Homo sapiens: one gene and its partner. The gene in region 2 interacts genetically with the main gene of each other region. Each region holds a gene or a part of one and is shown on either strand. Other genes may lie near its edges. The genes, in order: CREBBP and MYBL2.

Evidence for each region.
Region 1: of MYBL2 (region 2) and CREBBP, changing one enhances a phenotype caused by changing the other (phenotypic enhancement), as found in Homo sapiens cells (one study listed by BioGRID).

What each region holds. Positions count from the first base shown.
Region 1 is NC_000016.10:3,730,624-3,734,433, forward strand, and holds part of CREBBP (CREB-binding protein), read right to left. Parts: intron 1,315-3,810; coding exon 1,153-1,314; intron 851-1,152; coding exon 569-850; intron 1-568. UniProt on the Homo sapiens protein: Acetylates histones, giving a specific tag for transcriptional activation. Mediates acetylation of histone H3 at 'Lys-18' and 'Lys-27' (H3K18ac and H3K27ac, respectively).
Region 2 is NC_000020.11:43,701,463-43,705,272, reverse strand, and holds part of MYBL2 (myb-related protein B), read right to left. Parts: intron 2,784-3,810; coding exon 2,370-2,783; intron 55-2,369; coding exon 1-54. UniProt on the Homo sapiens protein: Transcription factor involved in the regulation of cell survival, proliferation, and differentiation. Transactivates the expression of the CLU gene.

The DNA of each region.
Region 1 (3,810 bases), on a different chromosome or scaffold from region 2:
AAGGCCCTCGCTCTGCTGAGGACCCGCTCTGCCCCGCTACAGACACCACAGCAAGTGAGGAGGCTCCGGGTTGGCAGGTGATGGTGACTGTCCTGGGAGGGGGATGGTGGGATCTGTCACCTGCCTGCCCTGCACAGCCTGACTCGGCCCATGCAAGGGACACCCACGTCATTTCACAGGGGGGTCAAAATTCCTAGAGGGGAGTGAGGGAGCATGACCGGGGGGTCCTTCAGGAACAAGTGGCCAGAGGGGCCCAAGCTGCCAACAGGACAGCGGGTGTTTCCAGCCATTTAGCAAGACTAGAACTGGGCACAGACAGGCCAGACTTCCCAGCAGAGCCTCCCTCTGGCCGTCCCCAGGGTCAGGCCTGTGGCTGTGGCTACACAGAGCAGGTTTAGGAAACACACACACAGCAACGCCTTCTGCCTTGTGACGCTGTCCTAGTTCTGGAGGAGTCAGTGCAGCCACCATCAGGTACAGACACCAACCCGGGCACCCATGCAAAGGGACAGGATGCTTCGTCAGACCCCAGGCCGGCTGTGGGGGTGGGGGTGGGGGCAGGGCCTACCTCGCACACAGTGCAGTGCCAGCGCGTCTCCACGTGGTGCTTGCACTCGTTGCAGGTGTAGACAAAGCGGTCCTGGCCCTGGGTGTGCAGCTCCACCAGCATGCAGAGCGTGGACCACTTGGAGCGGCGCAAGGAGGAGAACTCCCAGTGCTTGTCTCTGGCGAGGGTGAGGAAGGCGTCGCGCCCATCCATGAGGTCACAGCTGAGCAGGGGGTCGGGGTCGACGATGGGGGGCAGGGTGTTGATGACAGGCCCAGCGTGCAGGTGGATCACGAAGAAGACCTGCAGGAGAGGAGGGGCTTTAGTCCCACACAAGGGACATGGCACCTCCAGTGGTGAGCTCAGGGCAGGCGCAGCCACCCAGCCTGCAGAATAGGCAGGTGGCTGAGCCTGATGGCCCTGATGCCTTGGGATGGAACAAAATTGGTGACACGTTGCATGATGTCACCCAACTGGTCCACTTGGTTTCCTGGGGGCCACTTCCCTCCCACCACAGACCTGCACACGGGCCCACGCCCGCCAGCTGCGAGTCTTTCCCTCCTCCCGGCCAGAGGCACGGCTGCAGCACCGCAGCCCACGCCTACCTCCTTGTGCTTCTCCATGGTGGCATACAGCTTCTGGGACAGGTCATTGGACACGTTGGGCATGCTGGGCTTCTTCTTGTTGGCGCGGCTGATGCTGCTTTTGTTCTTGTTGGTTTTCTTGTTGTTCTTCTTCTTGGCATTCTTGCTGTCGCCCTGACTGCCCTGCAACAACACGCAAGGCTGTGAGACCAGGCAAGTGCCCCTCCACACTTGGCACGGACGCCCAGCTCCCAGGCCGTGGGCATCAGGAAGCTCAGGCCAAAGTAGGTCACCACCAGGCAGACCCCATACGTGAACGGCTACAGGTGGCTGTAGGTGCTGCAGCCTTCGGGACAGAGCAGGGCCTGTCCTCGGCCAGGCTGGTGTCATTATCAGCTTTATGCCACGCTGCCTCTAAAGGGGAAAAGAGACCCAGAGTGCGAGTTCAGAAATTAACAAATGAGGGCAGTGGGGGCTGTTTCCACTGTGCCACAACCAGATGCGGAAGATTCCACGTCACAACTGTGGTCAGCAGCTGTCTGCCTTGAGGAAGGCTCTACACACCCGAGAAAGCATGAGAGCTTCCAGGAGACAGGAAAGCTGCTGATGGGAAAAGCAGCTGCCCCATCAAGAGCAGGGACTCTGAGGCCCCTGCGGGGTCCACTCAAGGCCCACGGAGAGCAGGCTGGCTCCCTGCTGGGGCCATCAGTGCTGCGCCTGACTGGCTGAAGGTGGGCTTGCTCTCAGCCCACAGGCTCCTCCTCTGGAAAGAACGCAGGATTACCACTCACTTACACTTTAACAGAGAGCTTTATTTTTTTTGAGAGACGGAGTTTTGCTCTTGTTGCCAGGCTGGAGTGCAGTGGTGTCATCTTGGGTTCAAGTGATTCTCCTGCCTCAGCCTCCTGGGTAGCTGGGATTATAGGCACCCGCCACCATGCCCGGCTACCTATCATTTTTTTTGAGACAGAGTCTCGCTCTTGTCACCCAAGCTGAAGTGCAATAACGCGATCTCGGCTCACTGCAACCTCTGCCTCCAAGGTTCAAGCGATTCTCCTGCCTGAACCTCCCTAGTAGCTGAGATTATAGGTGCTGCCACCACACCCAGCTAATTTTTGTATTTTTAGTAGAGATGGGGTTTCACCATGTTGGTCAGGCTGGCCTTGAACTCCGGACCTCGGGTGATCCGCCCGCCTGAGCCTCCCAAAGTGCTGAGATTACAGGCATGAGCCACCGTGCCCAGCCAGAGAGTTTCATTTTTAACAAGATGAGAGAGACTCTTGGTGTTCAAAGAGAGGGGTCAGTCCAGAGAGAATTCAACAATCCAGCCGGGCGGGGTGGCTCACACCTGTAATCCCAGCACTTTGGAAGGCCAAGGCAGGCGGATCTCGAGGTCAGGAAATCAAGACCAACCTGGCTAACACGGTGAAACTCCGTCTCTACTAAAAACACAAAAAATTAGCCAGGCGTGGTGGCGGGTGCCTGCAGTCCCACCTACTCGGGAGGCTGAGGCAGGAGAATGGTGTGAACCCGGGAGGCGGAGCTTGCAGTGAGCTGAGATGGCGCCACTGCACTCCAGCCTGGGCGACAGAGCGAGACTCCATCTCAAAAAAAAAAAAAAAAAATTCCCACCCCACCGACAAGCAGCCCGAGGAGCCCAAATATCACGTGGGTCCTCCGCAGGATTCAGAGACAGAAAAGGGACGTCAGGGGAAAACTGAGGAAATTGGAACGAAGTGTAGACTTAACAATAATGCATCAACATCAACAAATGGCTCACCGTGGCAGCAAATGTGCCACACTAAGGTAAGACATTAGTAACAGGAGAAACTGCGTGCTGCAATATACTGGAACTCTGTGCTCAATTTTTGTGTCAGCCTTAAAACAAAGGAAGCCTATTTTTTTTGAGATGGAGTCTCGCTCTGTCACCAGGCTGGAGTGCAGTGGCACAATCTTGGCTCACTGCAATCTGTGCCTCCCGGGTTCAAGTGATTCTCCTGCCTCAGCCTCCCAAGTAGCTGGGACTACAGGCGTGCGCCACCACACCTGGCTAATTTTTGTATTTTTAGTAGAGACGGGGTTTCACCATGTTGGCCAAGCTGGTCTCAAACTCCTGACCTCAAGTGATCCACCTGCCTTGGCCTCTCAAAGTGCTGGGATTACAGGCGTGAGCCACCACGCCCGGCCTGGAAGTCTATTTTTACAAAATTATAAAATAAATATGTTCATGAAATTAAGAAAATATAGACAAGTAATTTTAAAAAGTTTTGTTTTTCTGGTCTTCCCGAGCAGCAGTGTTCTGTGTTCTGGAGCTTTCCCTGGGCACATTTGTCTCCGTGTTTGCGACATTCCTCACGAAGCTGGGACTGCACACAGGGAGCTGGTTCCGTTTCTCGCCCCACCTGACACTATCGCGAGCCTTTCCCCATTTCCCAGAATTGACAGCATGATGCAGAGCAGAGCTAATAGCAAAGCAGTGCTCCACCCCACGCACCAGCCCTCACTAAGGCTGACCCCCAGAGCGAGCTCCTGGGGTGTTGCTGACGAAGGCATGTCCCTGCCCATTGTTGTCCATGAACCAAACACACAAGGGACAGCAGGTCTACATGCCGACACCTCAGCATCCCGCCTCCTAACACATGCATGTCCCCGGTGCACAGGGAAGGCTGCCCCAGCAGG
Region 2 (3,810 bases):
CAGCGAGGGGCTCTCCAGCTCCAATGTGTCCTGTTTGTTCCAGAAGTTCAGAAACTGCCAAAGAAGAGAGAGGGAACAAGACAAAATGATGACCTGCATGAGTATCCCTGAGACCTCAGGGGATCATGGGGAGAGATCCTTGAGCCTCTCCCCCAAAACGTCTGCTCTGATACTGAGGTCCCCTCTTGACCCATCAGACACCCGAGAACAAGGACTGGGACAGATCGATGCCAGGAGCCCACCAAGCAGGTTCACACAGACCTCTGGGCTTCCGTCACCCTAATCCTAGCTTTTGCCATCTCTACTCGAGTGCTGACGACGCAGTTAAGGCACAGGAAGCCAACTGTGGGAGAGTGGCTCCTTCTCAGAAGAAATAAAACTAGCTCTGAACTGACCTGTGAAGGCAAAAGGCATGTGACAGTTGTAGTGTGCTGGTGGCGGTGGGGTTATCATTTAGAGGGCACCTTCTCTTGCCAGTGCTAAGCACTTCACACAAATAATTTCAATTAGTTACCACAAATCCTGAGACATAGGCACTATTACTATCCCCCTTTTACAGATAAGAAAACCAACGCTTAGAGAGGTTTTGAGTCTTGCACTGAGTGCTAGAAGTGAGAATGAAATCTAGATCTAAGCCAACATCCATCCTTTGAAGCACCCCGCTCTCTTCCCTCCCTGCCCTGAAGGTGCTATAATAGAGAGCCATCTGCAACCCTCAGGGTCACCACCCTAAATGGGGTCTCTGGAGTAGAGCGACCACGCTCCATCATCCTGAGCTTCCCAAATAGTAGCTGAGGGACCCGCTGCCTTCCTTCTCCAGCCAGCAGCCCTCACTTGCGGCATGTTACAGGCTGACCTGTGTCTCCCCCAAATTTACATCCTGAAGTCCCAACTCTCAGCACCTCAGAATGGGACTGTATTAATACTTGGAGATAGGGCCTTTAAAGTGGTTAGTTAGGCCAGGCGCGGTGGCTCACGCCTGTAATCCCAGCACTTTGGGAGGCCGAGGCAGGTGGATCACTTGAGGTCAAGAGTTCGAGACCAGTCTGGCCAACCTGGAGAAACCCTGTCTCTACTAAAAATACAAAAAAAATAGCCGGGCATGGTGGCTCATGCCTATAATCTCAGCTGCTCAGGAGCCTGAGGCAGGAAAATTCCTTGAACCTGGAAGGTGGAGATTGCAGTGAGCTGTGATCATGCCACTGCACTCCAGCCTCCAGCCTCCAGCCTGGGCAACAGAGCGACTCTCAAAAAATAAAGTCATTAGAGTGGGCCCTAATCCAATAACGGGTGTCCTTATAACATTATAAAATAAGAGGTTTTACAAGAAAAAATAATAGATTAGGACACAGGTGACCACGTGAAGACACAGGAGCCGCCAGCATCTACAAGCCAAGGAGAGAGGCCTCAGTAGAAACCAACACTGCTGAATTTCTTGTCAAATCCACCGAGCCTGTGGTACTCTGTTAAGCAGCCGGAGCAAACCGACACAGGGTCTCTCTCAAAATGCCACTAGCCATCCTGACCCGTGATGACAGGGTGGCCTCCTGCACCAGGCCACCTCAGGGCCTCGCTCTCTCCCACAGCCTCACAGGAAGAACAAACCTAATGAGAGCCAAAGCCCTAAGTTATACCTAGGCCCACCAAGGCCCTGCGCCACCCCCCACCACTCCACACATCCACTCTGTCCTTCCTTTTCTGTGCCTTTGGTCAAGGTGCTCAAGGAGACCCAGCCCAGACACCTCTCTGCAGGAAGGCCAGGTGCCCCCCATGACCTCTATCTCAGAGAGACCCTGGCACCCATCCCGGCTCCCGAGGCTCTGTGTGTTACTAACAGAGCACCCAGGGGCAACACCCAGAACAGTGAGTTCTCAGTGACTTCGCAATTGCTATCACATGGCACTTCCCACACTCTATTCTGGTTAATTCATTACAAGCCCATCCCCAGCACTGGCTATCCCAGGTCTTCCCAGGACCAGGCAGGGCCAGCCAGTGCTGGAGACAACCCATCATCTTCATCTTTGCTCCCCAGTGCTGGTAAGTCTGCTGTGAAATAGGTTCCATACGTGGACTGAACAAACACGACAGTTCTCTTCCTCTCCTTCATTACCCAGTTACCAGCATCCTCCTTCTCCTCCTGGCAGTCTTCCTGGACTTGCCCAGACTAGATACACATATGCAGCACCATAAGCCTTCTCTTTCATCCTGATTATCACATTTTCTGAGTCTTTTTTAGTTACCTGGTCTTCCTACCAGAGCATAAGCTGCATGAGGGCAGAGCCAGGTCTCGTTTTGCTCACCCTTGCCCCAGCACTGAACACTAGGTGTCTGTACCGACCCAATAAGCAGCCAGAGTGGGGTCCACGCACCTGGGAGGGCGAGAAGGGCAGGGTCTTAACAGGTGTGCTCTTGGGCGTGAGGCTGTTACAGGAATCCAGGAAGGACAGACTGGTGCTATTCTCAGTGACAGGGGACAGAGCCACACGCCTCTTCCTCTGCCGCTTGAGCACAGAGGGCGGTGTGCCAATGCCAGAGCCCCCGACTTCAGTGCTGGGGGAGATGGGGATCAGCTCGCCCCGGCTGCTCCGGCTCAGGTCTGAGATGGTGTGGCCATCCAGGCGGTACTCGGTCACACTGGGCACCAGGGCGGAAGGCTGGCGGGGTGGCAGGACTTGCTGCTGATGTGACGCTTGCAGCTGCACTAGGCTGTTGTTGATACTGTCCTCTGCAGATGGTTCCTCAGGGAGGTCAAATTTACTCAGGTCACACCAAGCATCAGGGTCCTGTCCAGGGAGGGAGGTTAGGAATTGCAATTACTATGCTCTTAATACAAGAGGACTCATTCATTACGGGAAATATTTAAGTGTCAAGTATGATCCCACAGCCCAGGACCAATCATTAATATTTCATGCATTTCCTCAAAGTTTTCTATGACTATACATCTATATTTTCATAGATTCTTCTTTTCTTTAAAGAGACAGGGTTTCACTCTGTTGCCTACGCTGGAGTACAGTAGCACAATCACAGCTCACTGCAGGCTTGAACTCCTGGGTTCAAGTGATCCTCCCGCCTCAGCCTCCCGAGTAGTTGGGACTACAGACATGTACCACCATTCTCGGCTAATTTTTTATTTTTTACTTTTTTTTGAGACAGAGACTTGCTCTGTCGCCCAGGCTGTAGTGCAGTGGTGCAACCTCGGCTCACTGCAACCTCCGCCTTCCGGGTTCAAGCAATTCTCCTGCCTCAGCCTCCTGAGTAGCTGGGACTACAGGCGTGTGCCACCACACCCATATTGGCCAGGCTGGTCTCGAACTCCTGACCTCAGGTGATCTGACCACCTTGGCCTCCAAAAGTGCTGGGATGACAGGTGTGAGCCACTGCACCCGGCTTCAGCTAATTTTTTAAAATATTTTTTATAGAGACTGTGTTTCACTGTGTTACCCAGGCTGGTCTCAAATTCCTGGGCTCACGTGATCCTCTCACCTCAGCCTCCCAAAGTGCTGGGATTACAGACATGAACCACAGTACCCAGCCTGCAGATATTTTTATAGAACGAAATATAGAGCAGTGAATGGGATGTCACTCATCATTGATGCCTCCTTGGGGCAGCTCACAAAAGTTATTTCCAATCCCCACAATTCTGCTAGGGAAGCATTACTTTCCCTTTCATACCAAGGAAGCTGAGCTAAGGGGATTCGGTCTTCCCAAAGTTACTCACTCAGCTTCTAGAACAAGCCCGTGAGTCACTACAGGTTTTCCCTCCTTTACCCAATAAATCACAACACAAACCAAAAGGCTTCTGGACACAGA